Linked DNA regions of Homo sapiens: regions 2, 3 and 4 are each linked to region 1. Evidence: fine-mapped expression QTL. A gene starts in region 1. Each other region holds a variant in brackets. All regions are shown on one strand. Distances are between the middles of the regions.

The links. PIP is the estimated chance that this variant, and not a neighbour inherited with it, causes the effect.
Region 2: its variant is the best candidate, but not a certain one, in a credible set for the expression of SLC39A8 in subcutaneous fat (TwinsUK, PIP 0.60).
Region 3: its variant is the best candidate, but not a certain one, in a credible set for the expression of SLC39A8 in lung (GTEx, PIP 0.59).
Region 4: its variant is the best candidate, but not a certain one, in a credible set for the expression of SLC39A8 in monocytes after muramyl dipeptide (Kim-Hellmuth 2017, PIP 0.84).

Annotation. Positions count from the first base shown.
Region 1 is chr4:102,342,419-102,347,712 of GRCh38, forward strand. It overlaps SLC39A8 (solute carrier family 39 member 8), which reads right to left and starts at 3,064. Exons shown (of 9, transcript NM_001135146.2): 1 at 2,927-3,064; 2 at 2,026-2,497. The coding sequence starts at 2,244. RefSeq lists enhancers at 1,587-1,646, 3,547-3,596 and a silencer at 2,117-2,366.
Region 2 is chr4:102,309,528-102,314,821 of GRCh38, forward strand. The region is part of intron 3 of SLC39A8 (solute carrier family 39 member 8); the gene reads right to left. Among named protein-coding and RNA genes, the nearest start is that of SLC39A8, 33 kb to the right of the region's middle. The variant C/A (reference allele first, on the strand shown) is at 2,523.
Region 3 is chr4:101,965,779-101,971,072 of GRCh38, forward strand. All of the region lies in intron 7 of BANK1 (B cell scaffold protein with ankyrin repeats 1), which reads left to right. Among named protein-coding and RNA genes, the nearest start is that of BANK1, 180 kb to the left of the region's middle. The variant G/A (reference allele first, on the strand shown) is at 2,785.
Region 4 is chr4:102,280,553-102,285,846 of GRCh38, forward strand. All of the region lies in intron 6 of SLC39A8 (solute carrier family 39 member 8), which reads right to left. Among named protein-coding and RNA genes, the nearest start is that of SLC39A8, 62 kb to the right of the region's middle. The variant A/G (reference allele first, on the strand shown) is at 2,206.

The DNA.
Region 1 (5,294 bases):
AACCCAGAGGGGGAGGTTGTGGTGAACTGAGATCGTGCCATTGCACTCCAGCCTGAGCAACAAGAGTAAAACTCAGTCTCAAAAAAAAAGCAAGAACATCAAAGAGATGTTTGTTAGGCTTATTAAGTGGTAAATTTTCCTTGGCTTCCTTTTCTTTCCAAGGTAATTATGGGCTTCTTCCTGTCTCTTTTTGATGCCCACAGAGGCCATAATGAGGGCAGTTAAATATGCAAACATGAGAATGAGAAAACAGGTGTCAAGATACATATAATTTTACCTATTGAGACATCCTGCCTGCTAATAAACAGAGAATCGTATTACTGGTACACTTAACCAATTTTCCTAAATAATTTAGGCATGTTTTCCAATGTCTTTGCAAAGGTGATGTGGGGAGGTCTTTTGCCCCTTTAAAATTCATCAACACCTCCAGACACTGCAAGATAAGGAGGTCATGCAAGTCAAAACAATGTGTGGGCTACAGATATGCAGCTTCAAGTCAATCCTCTAAACTTCTTTCCAAGCACGTGACCATACCTACCTGGAAATACTGGAGTCAGCTCAGTTGTTTCCCCTATTTGATAAGAAAAGAATGCAACTAGCCAGCAAACACTTTATTTTCTTAAATATTAGCATAATTTGTGGGCATTTCCATTTTTCCAACACATCATTTCTCAGATATTACCCCAGATAAAATACCATGCCCAGAACTGGAATTATAGACAATTTACTAAAGAACATGCATAAGGGGACCACAAAACCCTTCTAGATCAAAGAGAGACCACCTCTGACATGCCATGGCATCAGAAAGTTCTACTTTTCTTAAGAGCCATATACTTTAATTGTGGTAAGATATTTCTAACAAAAAGATCAATCTACGTATAATGTTATTAACATGGAATTTATTTGATTACAGTTTCCCTAACTGTAATCTAAAGTCATATTCATTAGGAAACGCCAAATTTCCAAGAGCAGAGTATAATATGCAGCATTTCCCAAACATCTTGGACCCCAAAAACTTCTTGTAACAAACTAACATCGTCCAAAAATGACAAACGATATGGAAAATACCGTATTCTACCCTCCAATATCAGCTGTCAGTGGGACAGGAGTAAAGGAAAACAAGTCAAAGCACTGAGTTAACTGAGTTTTAAAAGACGGAGAGCAGTTTTGGAAGGATGCAGAAACTACACTTTGTCTACTTAACAATTTTAAGAACTACCCAATCACAGAGTATTTATTATAGAAATAATTAGGAATAATTTGATTTTATGTTTACAAAGAGGTATGATGTTTAACTGCTCCTACGTAGTTTGAAGCTTGTTCTTAAACCCAAGGTATTGCCAAATGCCTAGTAGTACCCTGTTTATTACTGAAAAAATTTTTTTAATCATTTTGGATAAATACTAGAATCAAATATTTGACCTGACATATGACAAGGAACTAACAATATAAGCCTAGTCTACCACCATCTGGATGACCAAATTAGAATCTTAGTCTCAAGGCCGCCCCTGTTTCAGCCCTGAATGCCTCATGTAATGTACACAGGAGCCAGAACTACATTATATCTCGTTTTCAAATAGCACTGGTTACGCACCGGGCAACTGTTAACCAGGGTGGCATGTGATAATCTTCCTTGCTAACCTTGTAGGAAGTGTGCGAGCCGTTATCTTTCTGGCAAGATTTAAGTAACTCATTCCTATCTAAAAAGCATCTGTTAAAGTGGCGTCACACCCTCAACTACTTCATAAAGTTTTCTATAAAATGTTAAAATCACCAGAGTCGGACCTCTCAGTTCATCAGGCGTAAAACTGCAGTTTCCGGCTGCCAAATCCCTTAACAACGTTAACCTTTTAATCCTTCAGCCTCGTCTAGTGAAAAGCAAGTGTCACCAGATACCGCCTTCTACTTGAGAAATATAACAAGATTCTTTCTCCTGCACTTTTCCCAAATAAAAACGGCTCATATACAAAGTGAAGTCTAGGGACACCCACAGTACGGAGGGCTGCCCGGACCTGGCGGCCTTACCTGGTTGAAGTGCAGCTGGCCAGGCTCCGGGACGCCCACGCGGGAGGCGGCTCCCATCTGCTCCAGCAAGTGCTGGAGCTGCGCCGCCGACAGGCTCAGATTCGCGCCGAACACGCTCAGCACATCCTCGCTGAAGGCTAGCCCTGGCCCCTCCGCCACTCCTCCGAGGCCGGCGGCCGCCAGCAACAGGAGCCCGGCCACCGCGCGACCCGGGGCCATCCTGGCCTGGGCTTCCCCTTGAGGGCCCGCGACGGGCTGCCGCGCAGAGGGACGCGCGCGGGCGCACTGGCGTCCTTGCCCAAGGGCGGGAGCGTCAGTGCTCGGCGCTGCTCCGAGTCAGAGGTGGCGCGGGACGCCCCTGGTTCTCCGACGCCTTCGAAAGAACAGCAGCTCGCGACCTGCGGGGCATTGAAGTGGCAGCGTAGCCGAGGGGAGCGATAGGCGGAGTGGGCCCCCCGGCCTCCTGGAGAGCCTGAGATAAAGAGGACAAAGGGGGACAGAGATAAAGGCCACCAGGGCACCAGCCGGCAGGCTCCAGAAACGCTGCGTGGCAGTAGCCCTCAAACGCCCGGCCGGGCATGGGGCCAGACGCCCCGGATCCGGGTTTGCAAACGCCCCAGGATTTGCGTACATATGCTCCTCCCGGATATAAAGCCCCAAACCACGCCACTTCTTAGGAAAAACTAAAACCACACTAACTGTAGAACTCCACCTCCTCTTCCTGTCTTTCTGCTTTATTCTCTCCGCCGCAAACTTAGAAGTGAGACGTGCAGTCCCCAAGGAGCTGCAGAAAAGGGCTCTTCCGGAGTCCTGGGGATTGCGCGTTTAAAGGGGACCCTCCCTCTCCCCGGATCTTCTCTGAGCTTGGCAAGTTAATCGGAAGCACTCGCTGGCCTCTCACCTCTCCTATCTGTTTGTTTGTCTGTCTCTGCGTCTTTCTCTCTGCGTGTCAACGTAAGACTCGGTCTCTGGATCTCTCTCTCTTTCTGTCTCCCGCCCCCACAACCTCTGTATCTCTGACAGGTCCGCGGTGAAACTCCGCGATCCGCTCCGGCGCTCTTTACAAATAAGGGGAGGAGGGCCCTGTCCCCGCCTCCGTAGCACGTGGTGACCCATTTCCCCAGCCTGAACTCCCGCGCGCGTCCACGCCGGGGCGCAGGACCGCCGGCCTTCCCTCCGCGGGCGCTGCTCATTCCCAGCATCAGCCATGCCCTCTTCCCCACCCTCACTCCTGAGGGTTACCTGATGCCACCTCCGTGTCGGGGTCCCTAACTCCTCTCTGGTCTCGGGGACGCATGCATCTTTTCGTGATCTTGATGAAACCAACTTGCTGAAATGGAGCCTGGAGACCCTTGCATTGTCTACATAATTAACAGGAATTGCTTTTTTTTCTCACTTCTTAAAATCAGAGGAGAAAGAGGAAATCCAATGGTAGCGGTGGCGGGCTAGCTGAGCCAGCACTGCCCAAGCCGGCCCTTCCTGGCGGGATATCCGCAGATCAGAGGAATGTTTATTTGTTCATATGGGAGCTCAAGAAAAGCTGACTTAGGTGTGATGTCAACAGGTTTGTGTAAAGTGAGTGTGGTGTTTGAGGCAAAGTTTGTATCTGGTGGATATAGTGGTTCAAGTGTAAAGTGAAACCATGCTTCACTGTTAGATGGCTGTGAAAGGAAAATAAATCTTGAGACTTCAAAATCACCAAGCTAAAGGGAAACATCAAGAAGGGACCAGCTTAGGGCAAACCTGCCTGCCATTCTATTCAAATTCATCCCTCTGAGGCTCACCTGAGACAAATGCATATCTGATTGCTTTCTCTTCTCCATCGTTTATGCAAAAAATGCAGATTCACTGGGCCAGACTAAACTGTCTATTGAGTGGAAGGCTGATCATGGCCTCAAAAGAATGCAACCTTTTGTCTCTTGTCTATTATACTTCTAACCTGGAAGCCCCCACTTCCAATTGTCTCACCTTACTGGACTGAACCAATGTACATCTTACACATATTGATTGATGTCTCATGTCTCTCTAAAATATATAAAAGCAAACTGTACCCCCGACCACCTTGGGCACATGTCTCAGGACTTCCTGAGGCTGTGTCAGGGGCACATCCTTAACCTTGCCAAAATAAACTTTCTAAATTGACTGAGACCTGTCTCAGACATTTTGCATTCACGTGACTAAGGACAATAAAAAGAATACAAGATGCCGTTCTTGCCTTTCATCAGGAGAATGCACAGCCTCCTAAAATAGCACATTTTAAAGAGACATTAAGTCTAGACAAAGGGGAAAAGATGGGGAAAGGGAAAAAATCTTAATCTTAGAAGAGGAACCTAAAGACATAACTGCAGAAGAAAGAGACAGGTAGAGAACATTCCCAGAGGCTAAGGATCTAGGCAGACGAAGCTGAAGGATTGTCATATGGAAGAAGGTTTAACTATATTATATCTAACTTCAGAGGACAGAAGGCAGCAGTCATGGGGCAAAGTCACCCAGAGGAAGGTTTCTGTGGAATTATAAGGCATGGCTGCCTTGGAAGATAGTGATTTCTCCATGATCAAAAGTGATTCAAATCAACAGATCCTGGGTGACCGCCTTTAGTAGGTGGTAGGAGGATTCATGCCTGAAGGGAGATGAACTAAATGATCTTAATACTGTGCTCTTTCCAATTATAAAATCTACGTATTTGTTAATAATAATTTACAGAATTATGTTGATGCTAAAAGGGCAAATATTTCATCTAAGGGCCAGAAGTAAGTTAATATCACAGTTGTCCTCTTAAATCACTCAGCTCGTGGGACTCTTCAAGCCTTTCATTGGATTTTAAAATATAGTTTGTTGCCTATTTTTCCTTTGGACCTCCGTGATGCAAAATGATTTTTGGAAATTAATGAATGCTCTAAATGGCTAATCTATACCCAGCAAGTTGTTTATTTCCAGCTTTTCTAAAACTAAATTTGTCCATAAAGTGTTAGATTTTAACAAATATAAAAGGTTTTTAAAAATACAAATCTTGGCTGGGCACTGTGGCTCACGCCTGTAATCTCAGCACTTTGGGAGAATAAGGTGGGCAGATAGCTTGAGATCAGGAGTTCAGACCAACCTGGCCAACATGTAAAAACCCTGTGTCTACTAAAAGTACAAAAATTAGCCAGGCATGGTGGCGCACGCTTGTAATCCTTGCTACTCGGGAGGCTGAGGCATGAAAATCGCTTGAACCTAGGAGACAGAGGTTGCAGTGAGCCAAGATCAGGACACTGCACTCCAACCTG
Region 2 (5,294 bases), 33 kb before region 1:
GGTAGATCTACATGGAATTTCTCTTAACACAAACATACTTCTATCCATCACTAGCCTACATGCCTTCATTCATTCAACAAATATTTATAATCTCATTGGGTAGACAAGATATATACATGTTGAAAACTAAAATTAAAAGGCAAAGAAATTGTTAAGTGCCAATAGAAGCAAAGCCACATGCACATGTTAAACTCATCAGCTTCCCTGCAAACACCTGTTCCATTACCCTTGTTCACTACCTACATAAATAACAGGAACAGTAGGATCAATTTCAGTTTTTCACTTTCCACCAATTAATTCCATAGACAACTGGTGATCAAACCCTACCAGTTCTGCTTCAGGCATCTCTCACCTCTAGCCTCTCCATCCTCATTGCCAGTGGTCTTGAAGTCAGACCCTCATCACCTCTCACTCCCTCATCTTATATAACATGACAGTTATCGATCTGGTGCCCCTCCTACTAGCTGACATGGCCTACAGACTTATACTAAATCACAAAAGTGATCATCTCATGCCCCCATTTGAAATCGCCCCTCATAAACTGACCCTTGCACAGCCTCTCCAGTGTTATTTACCCCCTTCTCAACATGGCCTTTACCCAAACACTATGTTTTCCCAACCGAGCTTTACCTTTACACTGTGGTTCTCTGTCTGAAAACACTTTCCTATCTTCCTTGCCTAAGAAAGTCATACGTGGCCTTCCAAGCCAACACAAAGATCTCCTCTATGAAGCTTCCCTGCTCTCCAGGCAGTACTCCCTGGCTGGTCAGGATTCCCATTACTCTTTGTTCACTTACCACTTCTTGTGTGCTACAGTAATTTTATCACTGATATATTTGCCTACATCATATAAACTGTGTGATTCTCAATGAGAAGGGCTATGTTTTATTCATCCTCAGTGCCTAGAAAATTGTCCACGAAAAAGCACACATTCCTTGCTGAATGAATTGATAAATTCCCCATTTCAAGGTGCAGCAGAACTCTGTCAAAAAGAAATACCAATCGATCTGCTTATCCAACTTTCTAACTTTCTTTGCCCTTGCACATTTATCAGCACAACTTGGGGGATGGTGGGAGTGTAATTCATCACATTCTAAGCACACTGCATAGCTTCCCCTTCTTGTATTGTTAGAACATCATTCAGAAAAAAATGTCTGGAGTTTCCATTCAACTGAAGCACTTTCCACTTAACTGAAGCACCAAAAGTATACATTAGTATGAATCTATTCCTTGGACATCTCCATATATACGTGGGACTTTCTCAAACGATCTGTTTCAGAGAGGGACCAGTCTCCTTATAAGTGAACCCTGAAAGATTTTAATAGATTTCAAAGAAATACAGTCAGGATAGTTTACATTTATTGACTGTCCACTGTGTAAGATTCTTCTAAGAACTTTACCTATTTTAACTCATTTAATTCTCACAACAACCCTATGAGATAGGTGCTGCTATTTTTCCCATTTTAATAGTGAGGAAATATGGTTCTATTATGATACCCATTTTGCAGACCTGCATACAGCCCAGGCTTCAATTTTTGCCTGGCCCCATTTAACTGTGAAACTGTATAGAATGGTGTTTAACAGTGTGAACTCTGGAGCCAGAGGATTTGTGTTCAAATCCCAGCTCATCCCCTCACTGGCATCATAGGTTGGTTCCTTGACTTCCCTAAGTTTCAGTTTTCTCATATTTAAAATGCAGATTAAAATAGCTCCTATTTCATAGAGTTATTACAAGAATAAAATAAAACCAGTTAATGCTGTCCCTGGAATATAGCAAGCCTTTAATAAATGTTGATTACAATTATGTTTAAAAAATTAGTAAGTAGACCATGATATAAATGTTAGTTCATTTAATTCACTGTTACTCAGTGAAAAGAAGAACAAACTAAGAATCAGGAGCTCTCATTTCACCTTAGGTACGACACCTACAAGAAGCCACTTAACCTCTCTGGAACTTGGACTTACATCACTAGTTGTATTACAGAGTTGGACAATATGATCTCCAAGGATGCTTCAATTAATATTCTTTATTTTATCTACTATATGAATTAAATATGATTCTGCAACTTCATCAAAAAGTGAGGCAATTTCAGACCATTAAATTATTACTAAAATGCAATTAATTTCTCTCCTAGAGAATTTAACTTATCATCAGTTTACTGTACTCATCAATATCATTTTATAAAGCACATGAAATACTTTCAAAAATAAAATGTGAGGCCTCTGAGAAATTTTACTGTCTACCCACTGAAATGTCAACATAAATGTATTCAAATTTTTGTATCATTTGGATTGTTTTTATGTTGATTTTTTATTGCTTTGGATGAGCTAAAGACTTGACTCTTCATTAAGTGAAAAGTTATATGAAAAATCCAGTGCATTTAATTATTTTAAAATGTTTTTCTTAGTGAGAAAAACAATAGGATAACACAGGGGCCAGGGAATGTGGTGAACCTATGAACACATGTATAAGAACAAAGACATTCTTCTTCCTCTGTGCCAGGCATTGTTCTAGGCACTTA[C/A]GTATATTAACTCATTTGATACTCCCAACAATTCTATAAAGGTACTATTAAAGTAACTGACCCATAGAGATATTAAATAATCATACAGCTGCACTAAAATAAAACAATCAAGATATCACATCAAAAAGGCAATAGAGTGCCAAGTTAAACATCTTAGATGAGTAGTAACAAGCACTCTACTAGTTTCCCTAAATTCCCCTGGAAACATTTCCATATCTTCTCCCCCCGATCCCACTCCACTCCAGCCTCATTTCAATTCCTAAGACAATATGCACCCTAAGAGGCATTTCTCTTTTTATTGGGTTATCTGTCTGAATATTTGGTGATCCCATAACTTAGAATTGCTGACTTTTCCATTTTATGACTTTGTAGTGTTGTCCCTAGAATTCTACCTCTCACACCCTGCTTCTGACTTCCCAGTTCTCAACTCCTGGTTCCTGAAACAGAGTAACCTAGTCAACTGGGGTTTAAAAATTACTTTTGAATATGAGTAATTAACTTGCACAGAGCAACTGGGGTTAAAAAATTACTTTTGAATATAAGTAAGTAACCTGCACAGAGTAGAGTATTTGCTTTTTCTGAAACCTCACTTCCTGTACCTAGAGTTATGCACGTTAGATGTAGTTATTTAACAGACCTAACTAACAGGCCTACCACAGCACCTAGGTACTGAATAATGTTCGAAGTACTTTACAAATATTAAGTCATTTAATCTTTACAGCAAGCCCATAAGAAAGGTACTATTTTAGATGAGGAAGCTGAGGCAGGAAAAGGTTAAAGTCATGTTCTCAACATAGCTGGAAAATTACAGAGCTGGGATTTGAGCCCAGGTAAACTGGCTTCAGAGTCTGTGCTTTTACTGTGCAATACTATTAGTCAAGGGTAGTATCCTAAAGCGTTTGCTGAATTTACTTTTTAATGTAAAGTGCAAACTGTATTAAACAGGCTTGTAGAAATATAAATATACTCTAGCAAAAATATTTGCTTGAACAATTAGCAATTCAAAATTACTAATATTTCAAAATTGAAATTACTGTTATTCACAAAATTGCAAATTATATTGATAAATGATACTTGGTGATTTCTATGCTTTGTATATATAAATACAGAATATCAATGAGAACATGGGTTCTGAAGCCAAGACAACCTGGGCTGAATCTGGCTCTACCACATGCAAGTTGTGTAACTTTGAGCAAATGACTTTAAACTCCCTGTACCTTTGTTTTCTTGGCTGTAAAATGGGAATAGTAGTGTCTACATCATATAGTTGCATGAAATTAATATATGAATATGTAAAGTACTTCAAAGAGTGCCTGTCATATAGTAAGTACCACAAAAGAATTGGCTATCATCATTGTTATTTTTGTCATTGTTGTTGTTATTTCTTTTATTCATATAGAGGGAGACTGAAGTGTACATGCACAAAGGAATCCGGAAATGAAAACAGGCACTTTCTTTGTTAAGTCTTCCCTTTTCTTCTCTATCTTTACTCTCTTTATCTATCTATACTCCTGTCAGATGAGCTCACTCAGAACAGCATCTTTATTTTTATTTTTTTGAGATGAGGTCTCCCTCTGCCACCCAGGCTGGAGTACAGTGGGGTAATCATAGGTCACTGCAGCCTTGACCTCCTATGTTCAAGTGATCCTCCTGCCTCAGCCTCCCAAGTAGCTAGGCCTACAGGTGCATGCCACCATGTCAGCTAATTCTTTTAACTTTTGTTGTGATGGGGTCTCACTATGTTTCCCAGGCTGGTGTTGAACTCCTGGCCTCAAGCAATCCTCTGCCTTGGCCTCCCAAAGTGCTGGGATTACAGGGATGAGTCACCGTGCCTAGCCCCAGTGTCTTTAAATATCATCTCTAGACTGGCAAATCCCCAGTCTTGACCTCTCCTCTGAAAGCAATCTCCTCTCCAAATGTCTGTGTGCCTTTGCCTACTGGACCTCCCTGTCTACCTGTGTATGTCAATGTCTCAAAGCAACCACGCCAAAAATTATATTCTTTATCCTCACCACTCCCTTCCTCTACAATAAAGGGCTCTTCCCAGTCTTCTCCATCCCGGGAAATGGTATAACGATCTCTCCGGTTTCTCTGGCTCAAGACTTGACTCATTGTTCCCTCTCCCACAATCAATCCAGGGCAAACCATTTAGCATGATCTCCAGGACTCATCCCGAATCTACTGCTTCTCCCCACTTCTACTTCCCCCACTTTAGTCCAAGTCCCCATCATCCTGGCATCAGCTCCTGGCAATCGCTTCCTGACCAATCACCCTGCTTCTACTCTTGCCCCATTACAATCTGTTCTTCAGATTGTAGGCAGGTGGAATGCCCTTTTAACAGATTTGAATGAGATCACAGCATTCCCCTGTTTAGAATGGTACAGTGACTTCACACTACATTCAGAATAAAACCCAATCAATTTACCACCTCCCGCAAGGCTTCCTCACCTGGTCTCCATCTCCCGCCAGGACATATATCCTTCTACCTTCCCCACCAACTCACTAGGCTCCAGACACATAGGAGCCTCTTGCTGCTCCTCACTCATGCCAAGCTCATTGCCAAGCTATGTTGGCTGTGCCCTCAATCAAGAATGCTCTTCACTAGAGACGACCTTGCTGTGGCCCTCTCCTTCTGCTCAGATGATACCTCATCAGAGAGGGCTTCCTTGATCTATCTAAGATGACACTCACCCACTATCACCTTCTATCCCTCACCTACTAATATTTTATTTTCTTCATAGCACCTTTCACTCTGAAACTATGTTGTTTATT
Region 3 (5,294 bases), 380 kb before region 1:
AATATGTCATATATATTCCAGTAATTCCCAGTTGTTGTACTGATGTAGCCTTTCTTCAGGAATTTTCATTTGATAATAGTGTGAAACATGCTAAACTAGGCACTTTGAACTAATTCATAGCCTTATGATATTCAGGAAGCTTTGATAATCCTCTTGTCCCCATGGGCAATGTCTGTTCACTTTGTGGCTTGCTGCTTAACCAAACCCAAATGAAGTTATCAACATAAAATGCCATGAGAACATTTGTTTTATCAGAAGCCTTTCCTAACATAAGGTTACTGTTCTTACTCATTTGTTCTTCTGTTCTATTAGATTGGCTTATTGATTTTTAAAAAACAAATTTATTTTTTGTGAACCACTTCAAGGAGGCTATTCAAACACAGTATCTGTAACCATTTCCTTAATGGCTTATGCTACTTTTCCTTTTTCTAACAAACATTTTCTCCATCTTCCCCTCCTCTTCCTTCTTCCTTTTTGCAAAATAGAGGACAAGATTTAGGGAAGCTTTTAAAAAATACCTGATTTTGGTTTTAGAAAATTTTTATTAAGCCTCCTTTCAATGCCAGGGAGCAAGGCATTGGTTTGTTATCTATGAAAATAATAGTTGGACCACAAGTGTGTCATTTGATTGTCAATAATAATAATAATAAATTATTGAATCTGGTTGTGATAGACATCTTGGAGAGTAGTTAATATAGAGTATGGTTAGTGCAATTTTTGAGTTTTTACAGGCTTCTAAAAGGGTAAAGAGGAAAAAAGCAAGTAGCTTGCCATTTGTTTATCAAGGACTTATGCCTTTTAATTCAAAGATAATTAATTAGACTTTGATTTAGAAATAGATTGGAACCTTAAATTATCGTTGACTATTGCTGCTCTCAGGCACATTTCAAACTATCAGCCACCTCATGCCTTGGCTCCCAAGTGAGAATAAATCACATAAAGACAACTTCAAGGATAAGAAATATTTACCATTGGCCAGGATGAGAGACTTGGGATTTGTGGGCTTAAGACCCATAGTCAGCTCAGGAAGCAGCATATCTTAGCCTAATGTTGGTAACACCTGGATTTCAGTACATCTGACTCCCACCCAAGGAGGCTGCTGAATACACAGCTTTTCTGTGACAAACTTTCTCTAAATCAGAATAACAGTGCTTATTCATCCAGAAGGGAAATTATTAAAAGTTGTCACAAGGAAAACAAACATTTCCCAAGTGTCCTAAATGAACCAGAAAGCATTCAAGATAGTTTTACTCGTTAGTCCAATTTATTAATCGTTAATTGAGCACTTACTGTATTCAAGGTAATACGCGTACTGCTTTTAGGAGAAATAAATGAGTGGAACTGAAATGTTGCCATCAAAGGGGTCGCAGTTAAATGGGAGTCATGTTTTCTAAGCAATTACTGTGTGTGACACTGTTTTGTCTTTTGCATGTGTCAACTAATTTATTCTAACAATAGTCATATGACATCAGTACTATTGCAATTCTCATTTTATAGATGAGGGAACTGAGACATAGACAGTCCAAGAAAATTGCAAAGGATATTAAAAAATTTAGATCCAGGATTCATGCCCAAGTTTATGGCTCCAGAATCCACATCACAGTCTGTTCTGTCTCTAGAGAAAGAATTATAATGGGATGGTGTCTGTGTAGAAAACTTGAAAGGTACAGAGCAGCACATAAAAGAGAATAATAGATTTAAACAAATTGAGAAAGGGGGTGTGGAATAGGTATTTAGAGAAAATAAATATATGGGAAGTTCAGACAAAATTACATTCAATTCAATAAACCCACCAGGTCTCTGTAATTTATACTAACTTTGTCGCTTTTTTTTACTGAAAAAACGATGCTCTGAAGGATTTAAGGTCACACAGCTCATATATAGCAGAATCAGGTTTCATATCCCAGACTTTGTGAATTCCACTCTTACATGCTTCTTCTTTTGGATTAAACCTTAACTTAATTATTACTCCCAAGAAAGGACCAATCTGAAGTAGCAAGTATAAAAGGTAACATGGGAAATAAAAAGAAGAAGAGTATTAGAAGAAGTGAGGTTGAAATTAAACAGCCATATGGAAACAAAGGACTTTTAGGATGACTCAGAATAAGATTCAACAGCATAAAACTTAACTGTTTTCAATCAACCAACTGCAGTAACATAGAATTAGAAGAAACAAGAGATGGGAAAACTCTGACCAAGTCTTGGCATAGAAGGAACAGGAATCTCTAGTAAGTGAGGGAAAGCATATTGGTCTCTGAAGGAGGGAAGAAAATGTGCACAGAAAAGTGAACAATGATTTCTTATCCATGGAAGGTACCCACAGATGATAAGAAGAAATGCCCACACAGGAGGCTACAGAGGGGAGAGGGCGGGGCATTAGTTACTCATTGAGTCTTACGTCAAAAGATTTATTTACTGTAATTTAGATTGTCAGCAAGAAATAGCTTGATTTAACCTTTGGGAAGGGAATGTTATATGACAAATGTTAAAATAAATATATAAGGAAGCCACAAAATTGCTGGGAGGCATTTGCAGAGAAACTGTTAAACAGCCACAGGACAAAAATGGCATATTCAATGTAGGCATAGAAGATAAAGAACATTGTGATATGTCTGCTGAAATGGCACTCTAATATTTCAGACTGTCCAAAGGAAGTTTCAGATAGATTTGGGTCTACATAGAAAAATTCAAGTGTGAAGTAGAGTTGTACAGAAAACTTTTTTTTTTCTAGTGTCTGAAATGTGGTCTCAAAGGGAGGTGTAGAGAGGAGAGTAACAATGCCCC[G/A]TTGGTTGCAGTTAGAGGGGCAGACAAGTAAGAAGGTGATGGGTGGGGCTCTGCTCCCAGAGAACGAAAGTACAAGGGCACTGCTGAAGAAGGAAATGAGGCCAATTGAAATGTGAAATGAAATGTTTTAAAACTGCAGGGGACTACAGAGAAAAAGATAAAAATTAGCAAGAATTCTTCCCTCATGTATCATACAAATGTTAGAAAATTTCTTATGCAGGAGGTGGAGAGAGGGAAATCCAAACAAATAGATACCTTACTCCTGAGAAGAAAACAGAAAAGTTGACTGCAAAATAATGAAAGACTATTTTGAACATGATGTGATGCTAAAATGTTATTGAGAATGGGAACACCCAAAGGTGATGGTGGTAATACAGTCTAGATGAGAAACCATGTCCCTTTCCCAGACCTTTGTTAGTTTCGGGTTTCAGAAAACAAAGAATGCTGTTGTGAGATAATGGCTGAGATCTGAGCTCATTGGAAGGAGAGTCGTCTCTACCATAGACTCTTCTCAGTATGCTTTAGTATGACTTGGAGCTTCTTGTATTTGATAAAGATTGGATGCTGTGCCTCCTCTGGGAATCAGATCAAAACACAGAGAACAGGGTCAGACCAGAGTCCTGAACTATAGCTTTCTCTATACCTGACCTTGAAGAAATGGAAAAGCAAAGATCTTTTTTTTAAAAAAATCAAACTAGAAAGCGAAGTCATCTGAAATACTTAAGGAGTTCATACTATACCATTAGCTATTATAAGTGAAATGGGAAGGAAATTGTGTCTCTGGCTAATGAAAATGCCTAGGCAACTAATTATGAATTAGTTTAAAAGTTTGCATAATGAGAAACACTTGATAAAAGTGAAGTTTCAGATATTATTTGATTAATGTGCATAGCCAAAAGAGTCTTGATAAATGTTACATAAACTAAGAAAAATTTTGGTTAGTTATTAAAAGTTTTGGTAATTTTATAACAACACACTGCCTTCCATTCCAAAGTAAAATATTTCCAAATCCCTAAAAGTTTCTTTGTAAAAAAAAAAGTTTACTGAGGAAAATATTTATTTGAATAAAAAATGACCCTCTCACTAAATTTGCTGTCCAAATGTATTTGGGATAAGTATACATGTGCAGATGATGTCTAGAGAATTATAGGATGAATGAAATGGACACCCTATTTGTTACTATGGATAGACTGGAAACCAATCTTCCTCAGCAGGGAGAGTAGTGGTGTTCCCCCGCTCCACACCAGCAAAGCAAATGGTAGGAGACCATTTCAGATTTCCTCTTTTCAGGCTAATTTTCAAATAAAATTAATATAATCAGAGATCAGTAAAATTATTTATTATTTTCCAATGAAGGCTTCCTATAGGGAGTGTGTATTTAGGACCCATTATTTGTACAGAATGGTTTTCAATGCCACAATAGTTTCAATCAATAAGATACCTGTTTTGCCTCTGCAAAGTCAGTAAGACAGTCTTGAGTTTTAAAGGATTTTACCAGCTGCTTGATCTTGGGTAAGTTATTTCACCTCTCTAATCCTCTGTTTCCTCCTCTAAGTTCCCATCATTCCAGCTGACTCTAGGTTGAACTTTTTATTGAATTCCTTCTGCGTGTCAGGCACTGTTATCCCAGAGGACTGTTGTGAAGATTCGAGGCGCTGGCGCATAGTACGGATTCAATAGGTAGCTACTATTACCATGGATATTGTTATAGTTAAGCAATTGAGACGAGTGTCAGAGTAATGCAGACAATAAATGGAAAGTTGAGGAAAGAAAGTTTGGCAATTGCATAATGAACTATGGTTTGAATATTTAGGAATTACCTGTAAGAATCAGAAGTGGGAAAGTTAAAGTAACTGTGAAAAAGTTTCAGAAATGAGAAATCCCCAATTTCTTTCATCAATTTCTTTCATTTTATTCTGTCTTTGTCCTATCACCACCACTCTCCTGGAGGGGAGAGGAAGCAACAACAACCAAACAGCAAACAAGCTTGGACGTAAGATACTCTTAACTTTGTTTCAGATGAACATTCACTTTAGGAAAGTCGTGTTAGCCTGCACAGCTTGGCATGATAATTAAATAGAAAATGAGAAAGGCTGCAGTGGATGTCAGCTCACTCACTCATAGCCTTCCAGCCAGTCTCCACAGTCCCCACTGGGAAATCTGTCATGACCCTGTCATGCTCCCCAGATAGATGTTTGCTTAGAGAAAACCAAACATCTGATAAGGGAAGATCAGTAGAATCTGGTTTTATGTTCCCTAGGGTCAACCCAGAGTGAAATATAAGAAGTAAACATGATTTCCTTAGGATTTCAGCTATGATCATTTAAAAATTTTCTGTTTAGCAGGATTCTAAACATACAGCCCCAAGTAACTGGCCCGTTGTTTGTCACACTTGTGTCATAGCGTGCAGGCGTGTAATGAGGCTTCACAGATGTGCTGCCAAAGATGAATGACCAGGTGGAATGTTGGGATGAACTCTTCATGCAACATAATTTGAACTGTACTATGAA
Region 4 (5,294 bases), 62 kb before region 1:
TGATAAATGTTTGTATTTTATAGCTGGTGATTACTTGGTCCTTCTCCTTACCTGAAAAGTCAGCTAACTACCAAAATGAAGCTTCACATGAGAAAAGAGAAATTATTTATCCTTTAATGCATGTAACCAAATATAATTCAAATGCACTTACCTTCCAGTCATTCAGTTTCAGGTAAAGCTCAAAACTATTTCCAAAACTCTCTTTGCTAATTAAAATAACCATTAACAAGAAAATAACAATTTCTAGAAACCTCGCAAGTTGTTTCCTGTCTCTCCAATCCTGTGGAATGTGAGTAAAGTTGTTTTGGTCTTTAGTAGTTTAATTAATAATCAGTTATTTTCAGTTTGGGACCATAGCATTTTTACTGCCTTGAAAAGAACAATTTAGGAGAAACCTGAGAGGTTTTCAAGAAATCTGCTACTTTGCCAATGGAATCTAAAGTAAATAATAGTTAAATATTTATGGTTATCCTAATGGACTATTTATACCACTCTAAAAGGCTGCTTACTGTTGCTACAGATGAGGATGGCATTAATGCACTGGTACATTCAGGACACAGGATATCATTTCTTATAAAAAGCCCATAAAATGTACCTCCCCGCCTACACAACTCTCATTCTTACTGCAACATCTTAAAGGGATTCAGGAGGCACCAGGAAATTGTTTAAATTTCAATGTAAGTTGGAGAAATCAGTTGCTAGGATCCTTAAAAGTAGTGTTTCCAAAATATAGGAATATCTACACTGATCAGCCTCAAGGCTTTCAGAATAATTCATATGAGAAAACAGGGGTAGGATGGGATGCCGTGGAGAAACCAACCCCGTGCAGCAGCTGCCTGTCATGTCTTAACATTTGACATGAATTACATCAAGAACTGAAATATTCAAGATCCCACTCAATATACTCCATGTGACTCACCTGCAAAAAAAGAGAGACTGCTTTCTGTGGCAGAGAAGATCTAGAAACACACGGTCAAGGAGCTTAGGGAAAGTGGTAAGAGGCAAAGAAATAGATGAGAAGAGAGATTAGAGCCAGTGGTAACTGCAACCACCATGACAGAACAGGCACTTAGGACCAAGTGGGGGTGATAAGGAATAGGCAAGGTGCCAACAGAGAGACAAATATAAAGCTATTCTCTGCAAGGGGCAACTGGCACCCTGGTTTATATTTCAATAGTTCAGAAAAACAGAGGCTGTCTCTACTCTGTACATGGAGCGTGAGAAGTAGGAGCCACACAAGATAAGGGTACCAGGACCACATTCCCTCTGAAAGCTGTCACTGTGCCACTCTAAAGATGTGCTGACCCGTTTAAGAAAAGAAGAATCGGGCATGAAATATACAGAATACACCACTGGAGCACAGAGCAGTAGTGATAATAATATTTATAGTAATAACAGAGCCTCCTGCCGCATTCTCACTATGCTCCTGGTACTGTCCTACGCATTTTACATATACCATCGTTTAATCTTCACAACTGCCCTATATAGATATTATCCCCATTTTACAAATGAGGGAACTGAGGTATAGAAAGGTTAGGTAAATTAACCAAAGTCATACCTCTAGAAATGTGCAGAAACAGGATTTGAGCCTCCATGCCAAAGAAGCTAAGCCTGTGATCCCCAGGAGATACAGGATTTTATTTTCTGTGTTGTTGGTTCCTGTTCACCCAGAATGTAGTAGCACTGTAGGCACTCAGTGAGTGTTTGTTGACTAAATAAATGTGTAGTAATATTAAAAGTACATCTTCTCTCATGACATGTTCACAAATCATTGTCCCATGAAGCATGTATTCCAGTCTTTCCAAAGAGCAAACACATGGACATTTATGCACAACATGGAAAGGATGTGCATAAAAAAAGTTCATTAATCAATTCCAAATTGGTTCACCAATATAACATAAAATTCAGTGCAGAGATGCTTTTGTTGTTTGTTTGCCAATTCTTAGCTACTGAGAGTTGAAGAACTGGATTAAAATCTCCTGGCAGGACAAGATGTTTTTTTCCTTTTTGGCCGAGAATTTAGCGTTTAATGGGTGTTCAATAAATATTATTTTTAATTAAATGGTGGGGGGGGGTGCTGAATTAAGTAGAGAAATGAAATATCAAAATACATTTCAGTCAATGGATCTCAGAGGCTTCCTCCTCTATTCTAGTGATCAAGGCAGTTTTTTGTTTGTTTGTTTGTTTGTTTTGAGACGGAGTCCC[A/G]CTCTGTCGTCCAGGCTGGAAGGCAGTGACGCAATCTTGGCTCACTGCAATTTCTGCCTCCCCGGTTCAAGCGATTCTCTTGCCTCAGCCTCCCAAGTAGCTGGGACTACAGGTGCGTGCCACCATGCCTGGCTAATTTTTTGTATTTTTAGTAGAGACAGGGTTTCACCGTGTTAGCCGGGATGGTCTCGATCTCTTGACCTCATGATCCACCTGCCTCAGCCTCCCAAAGTGCTGGGATTACAGGCGTGAGCCACCACACCCAGCCCTCAAGGCAGAAGACTTTTATTGGCAACCATCTTGCATCTAACTTTGTGGACTTACATATTTTTTCAGAAGATGGTTTGGAAAGGGAGGGCATAAAAGTAAGAATATTAGCAATGAAAGCAGATAACCTGTTAAAGATTTATTGTTTGCAAGATGCTTTTCTAAATGCCTGTGATAAGTACATCATCCTGATTACAGAGGAAATAAATGAGGACACTGGAAGAAGGGACTTGCCCAAAACGACACAGCTAGAAAATGGGAAAGTCAGGATTTGTGCCCAGACTATTTGACTCCTAAGCCTATGCAATAAGAGGTCAAGATACTGCTCAAGAGAATTGAGTTTTTCAGATGAGGAATTTCTGAATTAAGTAGCTTGTTGCTATAAGGTAAGAAATTATTATTTTATTGCTGTTTGCCAGTCTCCATCCTGGAAGGTGGAGTACCTCCAGGATTCAAGTACCTCTGGTTTTGAGTAGAAGACACTGAACTAATGTGCTGAGGTGTTCTGAGGATTGCTAACACTTCACACACAATTAAAATAATACTTCCAATTGTTGAGGAGAAAAAAAACACCATCCTAGAGCTTTCAAATCCACTACATATAATCTACTGTTTACAGATTGCAAAAACTGATTGCAAAAGACAGTTGTTTTCCTGACTGACCCGTTCTTAGTTTATAACATTTAATAAAATGTAATTTTGGAGCCAATGTCTTGTATTATTAACACTGTTTAAGTGTTAGAACACAGGAATGCTTACTTTGAAGAAGAATTTCTATCTAGAATGTTTTCCAATGTCATTTTATACAAGCATCCACTGTGCCTACCTACTCTGTTCATCTTTCTGTTCCTAAAACCCACTGAACTGTTTCCTACCATAGAGATTTCTCACTGGCTGTTTCCTCAGCCATAATATTATTCTCTCGGATATTCACATGGATGGTTCCTTCTTACAATTCTGATTTTAACTTAAATGTGTTCTCCTTGAGGAAGTCATCCCTGACCACCCACACTAACATAGTGACCCAGACATCATCATATCACATTTTAATTCCCTGCAGGACATTTTAAAATTTATTTTTGTATTTTATGTGTATAAATGTATGGGGTACAACTATAATTTTGTTACATGTATAGATTGAGTAGTGGTGATGTCAGGGTATCCATCACCCAAATAAAGTATATTGTACCCATTAAGTAATATCTTATCATGCACCCTCTTCCCTCCTGCTCACCCTTCTGAATCTCCATTGTCTATCATTCCATATTCTATGTCCACATGTACACATTAGTTAGCTCCTACTTATAAGTGCCTGCATGGCATTTGTAACTCTATGATGTTGGGCTGTGTGTCCCACTAGAATGAACCAGAATGGCAGAGCGCATGAACATTTTCTGTCTAGTTTGTCATGGAATTTCTAAGGTGTAGAGCAGAGCTTGGCACTTGGCAGGTGATCACTGAATAGATGAGAAGAAAATAAATGATGAAATGAATGACTGAATACCATCTTCCTACGCTTTAATATAGCATCACTGATTTAATGTATGGACCAGGATATCATTCAGAATATAAAATGTTGTCACAAAAGTAGCCTGATATATCACAGAGGCCCAGTTTAAGATTGCCATTATTGTTTTAATATAAAAGTTACATGATTCTGGGATTTTGATCAAAGTCACAAACACTATAAAAATTACAAAAAAAATACAGACTATTTTTGCAAAAGTGATGTTTGTCCAGAAAAGAATGTTTGAGATTCTACTTTCTAAATGGAAATAATCTCTAGATTTGGGTGTTTGTTTGCAACCCAGGAAACTATAATGATGGCTGATCCCTCACTTATTTTTTCCAATATATATTTTGTAACCTGGTAATAGAGGAGGATACACTAGAAAGCATAAGACCAGAGGCCGGAATGTCTTATGGAACCCTCCAATGTAATCTCTATTGGTGTTTCCTCTGCTGCTAAACGTTTCTGACTTTTATCCACTTTCACTAAGTTGGTATAAAGGTTCGATAAAGTCATGTTCATTAAGCACTTTGATATTCCTAAGTAGAAAGAGATTCAGTAAAATAAAGTCTGTTCTTTTATTTTACTTTTAATGTTCTGATACCTGATAACAAATAAAAAGTAATAATACCTTAATCACTTCGAAAAAGAATTAGGCTCACACATTGGTCTCTCTTTCTACTTATTAGGATTCAAAACTTCTATAATAATACTTCTAAATAAATTGAGCCAATAATTAGCATGGAGAGCAAAGTTAAAGGCAGGAGAATGTCACCACTTAATTTAAATAAATGAAGAGTTATTAATTGAATTGAGAGCCTTAGAATGGGACTGAAATTCTCTATCTAAGAAGCAGACATATAGTAGAATCAAATTTCACTACCTAATCAATGCCCTAACTCTAACCCTTAATACTTTTATTAAGAGTCAGCACTTAAATTGTTCTTCAAATATCTTCAATTCTTTTTTTATTCACTAAGATTATTAGTGAAGTATTAATAGTTATAAAAGTGAAATTTGTTATCTGGAAATTTACCTCAGACACAAAACTGAATAGATATGATTGTAGAGACAAATAAATATTATAGATGAGGGTGTGTGTGTGTGTGTGTGCATGTGTGTATGTGTGCATGAGCCAGTCTGCTAATTACTATATAATATAGTAATGTCAACCTCAAAAAGCAGTTTGGCAAGACCACACTTCATTTACAGGATGCATTAGCTTTGGTATCTTTTTGATTTAGAATCCTTACTTTGAATATATAGAATAAATAAAATGGAATAATAAAATGTAGAGTAAATTCTGCCTCTG